2 linked regions of the Homo sapiens genome follow. The protein of the gene in region 2 interacts with the protein of the main gene of each other region in a pairwise test. Each region holds a gene or a part of one and is shown on either strand. Other genes may lie near its edges. The genes, in order: AFG3L2 and RAC2.

Region 1 (3,812 bases), on a different chromosome or scaffold from region 2:
GAAACAGCCCAAATGGCCATCAACTGATGGGTGGATCAACAAGATGTGGAACAGCCAAACAATGGCACATTTACTTGGCCACAAAAAGGAATGAAGTTCTGATGCCTGCCACAATTTGAATCAATCCTGTTCATTATGTTAAGTGAACATAAACCAGGCACAAAAGACCACATGTTTTTATTTTTATTTTTTTGAGGTGGAGTTTTGCTCTTGTCACCCAGGCTGGAGTGCAATGGCGTGATCTCAGCTCACTGCAACCTCCACCTCCCAGGTTCAAGCGATTCTCCTGCTTCAGCCTCCCGAGTAGCTGGGATTACAGCACCCCCACCACCACGCCCGGCAATTTTTGTATTTTTAGTAGAGACAGGGTTTCGCCTCATTGGCCAGGCTGGTCTTGAACTCCTGACGTCAGGTGATCCACCTGCCTTGGTATCCCAAAGTGCTGGGATTACAGGTGTGAGCCACCGTACCTGGCCAAAACCACGTTTTTATATAATATGTACAGAATAAAAAAACCTAGAGAGACAGAAAGTTTGATTGTCTTGAGATGGAATCTTGCTCTCTCATCTGGGCTGGAGTGCAGTGGGGTGATTTAGGCTCACTGCAACCTCACCTCCTGGGTTCAAGCCATTCTCCTGCCTCAGCCTCCCGAACAGCTGGGATTACAGGCATGCACCACCATGCCCGGCTAATTTCTGTATTTTTAGTAGAGACAGGGTTTTGCCATGTTAGCCAGGCTGGTCTCGAACTCCTGACCTCAGGTGATCCACCTGCCTCAGACTCCCAAAGTGCTGGTATTACAGGTGTGAGCCACCGTGCCCAGCCCAAAATGTTTTAAAATTATAGTGATGGTTGTACAACCCTGTAAATATACTAGAAACCATTAATTGTACACTTTATACGGGTGATTTTTAGTTAACTTTATTTCAATAGAGCTTTTAAAAAAACGCTTAGGAATAATTCCTACAATATTTATAGAAAAAAATGATACACTGTCAAGAATTTTTCACAAAATACTCCCGAGGAAGCAGAAAGAGAAGAGGGTATAGATAAAAGTAAGGTCAGATGTGAATTAGTAATTGTTCCTGAAACTAGGTGACAGGTACAGATGGGTTCATTACACCATTTCCTCAAAATCTGTGTATGTTTGAAATTTCCCATAATAACAAAGTAAAAATAGTCGGGCACAGTGGCTCATGCCTATAATCCCAGCACTTTGGGAGGCCAAGGCAGGAGGATCACTTACAGCCAGGAGTTTCGGGCCAGCCTGTGCAACATAATAAGTAAGACCCTGTCTCCACAAAATCAAAAAATTAGCTGGGCATGGTGGTACATGCCTGTAGTCCCAGCTACAAACAAGGCTGAGACAGGAGGATCACTTGAGCCCAGAAGGTTGAGGCTACAGTGAGCTATGATTACACCACTCAGTCCATCCTGTGCAATTAAGTGAGACCCTGTCTCAAAAAAAATAAAAATGAGAATATAAACTTAGGAAGCCCACAGTAAAGAAGTGAAAAGGTAAGAAAGTAAACCGGTACCTGGTAACTGTTACTGATTTTAATATGCTTCTAAATAGGGTCCTCGTTATTTTCCACTCACCTGAAAACCCTGGAGTTAAAGATGCCAGTTTTCTTGCCAATTTATCCTTCTCCAGGGTACTGTCCAGTTTTAGCGGTCGGAGATGAACTTTGAAAATAGAAGCTCTTCCTTTTATGTCTGGTGGTCCTTTAGAAATCATTTTTAAGGAAAAGAAAATCATATTGAAACAGTCACACCTACACTCATGAGCACTGGACCTGCCCCAGCAAACATCATCTCACCAATAAAGATCTGCCTGTCGAAACGCCCCGGCCTAAGCAGCGCGGGGTCCAGGATATCTGGTCGATTGGTGCCGGCCAAAATGACGACATTTGTTGTTGTATTAAAACCTGAAAGATAACAAAAATGCAAACACTATTAAATGACAAGAGGCAGAAAGCAACAGTGCACCATCAGGAACATATGAGCACTGCAAATTCATAGCTACAGTAAACACATTTTCTATTCATTATCTAGTGTTTTTTGTTTTTTTTTTTTTTGAGACGGAGTTTCACTCCTGTTGTCCAGGCAGGAGTGCAATGGCGTGATCTCAGCTCACTGCAACCTCCGCTTCCCAGGTTCAAGCAATTCTCCTGCCTCAGCCTCCCGAGTAGCTGGGATTACAGGCATGCCCCACCACACCTGGCTAATTTTTGTATTTTTAGTAGAGATAGGGTTTCTCCATGTTGGTCAGGCTGGTCTCGAACACCTAACCTCAGGTGATCCACCCGCCTGGGCCTCCCAAAGTGCTGGGATTACAGGCGTGAACCACCGCCCCTGGCCTATCCAGTGTTTTTTAAGTTACAAACTTGAATTATTTTTTTACTATTCAGCTCGTCCTTGAAAATAATCATATATTAGACTTAAAAGTTTTACGAGTAAATTTCCTAAAGACAAATGACCAAATATTTAAATTTAACTAGAAATTTAACAGATAATGTCAATTTTAAAAATGTCTTAAAATCAGATTAAATTGGCAAAGGATGTGTCTGACACCCTGGGCCACAGGACAACCAACTGCCTATCTGAAGGCAGAGATCAACCTCTACCTCCCACCTCTTCTCCACACTCAAATGGCTCAGTGTTACTGCCCATTTCTCAGTGTAAATGCCATGGTCCCAGGCCCTTCACCCTCAGGACCCTGGCACGGCAGGAGCTCCTGGGTGAATTTCCCTCAGATGTGGTGCTCCAATGTGAACGCAACAGGGGCTGACCATCGCGGGACGGAGGAGGCTTTCTACCTCCTTATTCTGCCCCTATGCCTGGCTTCATCATTGAAGCCAGTTCAGTACTGGCACTGTGCTTCCCCTTTCTGCACAAACAACCAAGCATCCACATTTTTATCTTCCAGCAGGAAGAACACATGACATCCTGAGAAGTGGCTTTCCTAAATGAAATAAAAGCTGGCTAGCATGGAAAGACTGCTACTCTCTTAGTAAAAAAGTATTCAAAATTTGCTAAATTCACACTTGGTTAGGCTTAGATTTTCCTTATGCTTCAGAGATGGTGATGATTTAGAGAATGAGATGGTAATTCTTTTGTGACTCATTTCACCAATTCTTCTCTTATTCAAACACCAGACACAAACAGCATGTTAACACCGATATTAAGTTATGCAGGCTGCCAGGAAAAAATATTTTGCTATTATTTGTATTAGTATAAAAGGGCCTTTTAAAAGAGCTGTTTGTTTTAGGGAATGCTTTTTTTTGTTTGTGATACTCAATATTGGAATAAGGACTCTCATTTTGGGGACATGAAAGGCATAAAAAGTGCAGCTTAAACTCAGGAGACTGAGGCAGGAGGATCGCTTGAACCCAGGGGTCAGAGGATGCAGTGAGCCGAAATCACACCACTCACTTCAGCCTGGACGACAGAGTCAGACTCCATCTCAAAAAAAAAAACAAAAGTGCAGTTAAAGATACAAAAGCCTTGACCACTCACCATCCATCTCCACCAGCAGCTGGTTGAGTGTGTTCTCCTGCTCACTCTGCCCTCCAAAGTTGCCTCTTCCTCTCTTCCTTCCCACCGCATCGATTTCATCGATGAAGAGGATGCAAGGGGCATTCTTCCGAGCAAGGGCAAATAAGTCTCGGACCTTGGCAAAAACAGAAAGAGAGTCACCTGACCAGAGAATATTATGTATTCTCTGAATAAGAAATGAAATAAATCGGCCGGGCACAGTGGCTCATGCCTGTAATCCCAGCACTGTGGGAGGCCGAGGCTGGTGGATCACC
Region 2 (3,812 bases):
CTTTATGACACCCAGAACCCTCCCTGCTTCCTGTCATTCAGTTCCCTGCTTAAACATCGCCTCCTTGACCCCCTGTCTACAGCAGCCCCCCGTCTCCAACCTGCCCTCTCCATCCCACCACCCTGCTTGGCTGTCTTCATAGGCCCCCCGACAGCCCGACTTCATCTTGCTGCTCCTTTGCTGCCACTCCTCCTCTTGGATGGAAGCTCCCTGAGGACGGGGCCCTTATCTGCCTCACTCCCTGCCATCGCGCCAGTTTCTAGAACAGAGCTGAGCCCATTCCTGTTGCTCCGTCATGACTGCCTCCCCGACCCCGGGGAGGAAGGCAGGGCTCAGCTCTGCATGGAAGAATGTGTGCTGCTAATTGAGGTTGAATCATTTGGCACTTAATTTTCACTTTCATTTGAAATCCTCTCTTCGGTAAACTGGCGAATCCAGCCTGGGATTCCAGTGGACAGGATGACATCAGCCTCCCTAGCTGTGTGCGCCAGGCCCCACCAGGTTCTGCCTGGCCTCTCGGCAGCCCCATCCCTGCTCCTGCCGCTGTGTGTGTGGGTGCCTCATGATGTCCAGTGGCTCAAGCCTCTGCCTTAGCTCAGGCACCCCTTCTGTTGGGTATTCTGTTCCCTCCTGCTCCACCTCTCCCTGCCCCGTGACACCTCCAGCTGCCTTCATCTTTCAACCAATAGCACGGTAAGGGCCTCCCCTCCTGGCTGATGTGCCAGTTTCCCCCTCTGTTCCCCTCTGGCCCCTCCCTAAGACTTCTCCAAGAGGGTCCCTCCCTCCCTCCCTCCTTCCCTCCCTCCCTTCCTCCCTCCCTTCCTCCCTTCCTTCCTTCCTTCCTGACGGAGTCTCGCTGTGTCACCAGGCTGGAGTGCAGTGGTGCGATCTCGGCTCACTGCAACCTCTGCCTCCCGGGTTCAAGCGATTCTGCTGCCTCAGCCTCCCAAGTAGCTGGGACTACAGGCATGCACCACCACACCCAGCTAAGTTTTGTATTTTTGGTAGAGACAGGGTTTCACCATGTTGGCCAGGATGGTCTCGATCTCTTGACCTGGTGATCCACCTGCCTCAGCCTCCCAAAGTGCTGGGATTACAGGCGTGAGCCACCGTGCCCAGCTGGGACCTTTTATAAATGCAAATCTGATCTCATCACCTCTGCCTGGCTTGGCCCCTTGCTGGTTCCCCATTGCCCTGAGAACCAAGACCTGACTGGTCCGTGCCCCTATGACATCAATCCTTTCTCACCCCCAAGTCACTAGCCATGCGTGCCCTGTGGTCTCTGGGTTCCTTGAATGCACCATCCTTCCTCCGTGGGGGTGGGCTTCGGTGGTGGTCAGGTGATACCTGGGTGCTGGGGCCCCTTCCACCTGCCCCATTCCCCTCCTCCACTCCATTCTAGGGCCAGGCCTCAGAGTTCTACAGGCACTAGATGAAAACATGGTCTCTGCTCTCTCCAACTCCATTTCCAGCCATGAAATAGCAGCGATGCTTACCATGTGGGCCTTTCTGAATTGGGTAACAGGATCTAGCCTTGCTCTGCCACCCACTGGCTGGGAGATCTTGGGCAAGTCCCTTCCTCTCTGTAAGCCTCAATTTCTTCATCCGGAAAATGGGGTGAGGGTTGCCCATGGTGGTCTGTGCATAAGGTTCCTCTCTGGTCCTGGCTGCCTGTGGGTCTCTTAAGTAAGGGGGACCCTCAGGGGTGTCACACCATTGACACATTCCTGCACCTGTCCCTCTGGTCCTCTGGGGAGGGGCCCTGTGGCAGGGGCATTTGGGGACATGGAAAATGAGACTGCTTAGCTTCTCAGCATCTCCCAGTGGGGTGGCTTGAACATCCTCTGTTTTTTTGGATTCTCCTAATGGCTCCAAGAAATAGGTATTTTCCCCTCCACATTAAAGAGATTGAGGCTCAGAGAAGTTAGGTCACTCACCCAGGGTCACACAGCCAGGATGTCCTGGCTTCCCAAGGAACTCTGTGTTCCCGCCCAACAAGAAAGGTCCTTGACCTCTTCAGGCCTCAGTTTCCTCATCTGTCTAATGGGGGTAACTTAAGATCCTTTTGTCTTGGATCACATGAGACTTCAAGACCTAACATACAAAGACCCTCAGCCCCCTGCCTGGCCTCAGAGAAGGTGGCTGTTGCTTCTCAAGGTCCCAGCTCTTTCCCCATCACCGTGGCCCTGAGATTCCAGGGATGACCCAGAGGAGACAGGTGAATCTTGTGGGGCTTCTTGGCACTAGCACTGTGGCTGGACATTAGAGGAGAGAGTGTCCAAGCATTTCCCAAAAGTGTGTTTCTGGTCAAAACTGGAAAAACAACACAGGTGTGGCTTTTCCCATCATGCCTCACTGTGTCTCCCTGGACAGCGCCTTCTTCCTGAAATCCCACAGCAGTGTAGGTGGTACCCAGAGTAGGTGCACGCCAGCACCTGCTGTGCACCAGACCGCGGGCTGGCCCCAGGGTGCAGCGGCAAACAAATGAGGCTTAGTGCCTGCCACCTGGGATGCTGAGTTCCCCAAGGAGTGCTGGTTTAGGTGGGGTGGTAGCCCCGACATGGCTGGAAGTCAGGAAAGGCTTCTTGGAGGAGGTGACATTGAGCAGGGGCTGGAGGGATGAGTAAAAGTCAGCCAGCCTGGCAGTGGGGAGGAAGAGAAGGGAGAGAGGAAGGAGAGTGGGAAGTCAGGGGCCACTGTTTGCAGGCACTTTCCAGACAGGCGGGAACAGGGCCGTTTGAGGAACTGAGAGGTAACCAGGAATTCTGTCCAGGGCTGGACAGGCAAAGTGTATTAAAAAGGCTGGGCTGCCCACTTTTTGGGGGTGTGGGGGACTCCTCTCAGGAGAGGTGTCTTTTGTGTTACTCTGAAGTGTTAGCGCTTCTGCAGCCTAACATTGAGTAGCGTTCTCTGAGGACTTCCTGGAGGAGGTGGTTTAATTCCCTTCCACCTGCATTCACTGGGTGACAGGCCTGAGACTGTGGAGAATAAGCAGGCATCGGCCTGGCCCACACAGAACCCACAGCCCTTGAAGGGGTGGAGACTCACCAAGTGCCTGCTCGTGGTCCAGGCAAAGTAGTCACCTGAGAGAGGGAACCATGGGCTCTTTACAGGTAGAGGACGACGAAGCTCCGCCAGAGAGGAGGACTTGTCTGGGCAGGGTTTTGAAGCATGAATAGAAGTTGGGAGTGAAATGGGGCTGGAAGCGTATTCCAGAGGGAGATACAGACAGGATCAAAGGCTTGGAGGGCTGGGCAGCCTGGAGGGTGTGGGGGCCAGAGACCAGGTTGGTGAGAACATATGGACAGCTAAGGTGGGAAGGACATTCTGGGCAGGGGCTTTGTGTGGACCAGCACAGGGAGGTGGGCAGTGTGAGCCTTTCCCGGGAAACGGCTTGGCTGGTGTGCGAGGGGAGGAGTAGGAGGAGAAGTCAGAGGAGCCGGAGGTCTCAGTGGACCAGGTCAGGGCCTGTGTGGGGGACCACAGCGGGAAAAGTGACAGTGATTCCCTAACCCTCAGGGGCAGGCGGTGAGGGCATTCCCGGAGGCACAGCTGTGGCCTGGGGCAGTGAGCACTGGTCGTGGTCACTGGTTTCTGGTTTCTTACCTAGTTGGGTCACTCACTGGCTGTGTGGCCTTGGGCAAGTCACTGCATCTCTCTGAGCCAAGTTTTCCCTTCCACAGCGTGGGTAGCCAGCACCTTCCTCGCGGGGATGTGTGTAGCAAGAACTGGCTTGCAAAACCTCCCCTATTCCGAGCTTGGAGCCCTGGGATGGCCCTCCCAGCATTCGTTGGGCTTCCCCGTCTCTGATA

What was found.
Region 1: the proteins of RAC2 (region 2) and AFG3L2 interact in a two-hybrid assay, tested with the Homo sapiens proteins (one large-scale study listed by BioGRID and IntAct).

What each region holds. Positions count from the first base shown.
Region 1 is NC_000018.10:12,349,486-12,353,297, forward strand, and holds part of AFG3L2 (mitochondrial inner membrane m-AAA protease component AFG3L2), read right to left. Parts: intron 3,674-3,812; coding exon 3,520-3,673; intron 1,929-3,519; coding exon 1,821-1,928; intron 1,726-1,820; coding exon 1,600-1,725; intron 1-1,599. UniProt on the Homo sapiens protein: Catalytic component of the m-AAA protease, a protease that plays a key role in proteostasis of inner mitochondrial membrane proteins, and which is essential for axonal and neuron development.
Region 2 is NC_000022.11:37,234,218-37,238,029, reverse strand, and holds part of RAC2 (ras-related C3 botulinum toxin substrate 2), read left to right. Parts: intron 1-3,812. UniProt on the Homo sapiens protein: Plasma membrane-associated small GTPase which cycles between an active GTP-bound and inactive GDP-bound state.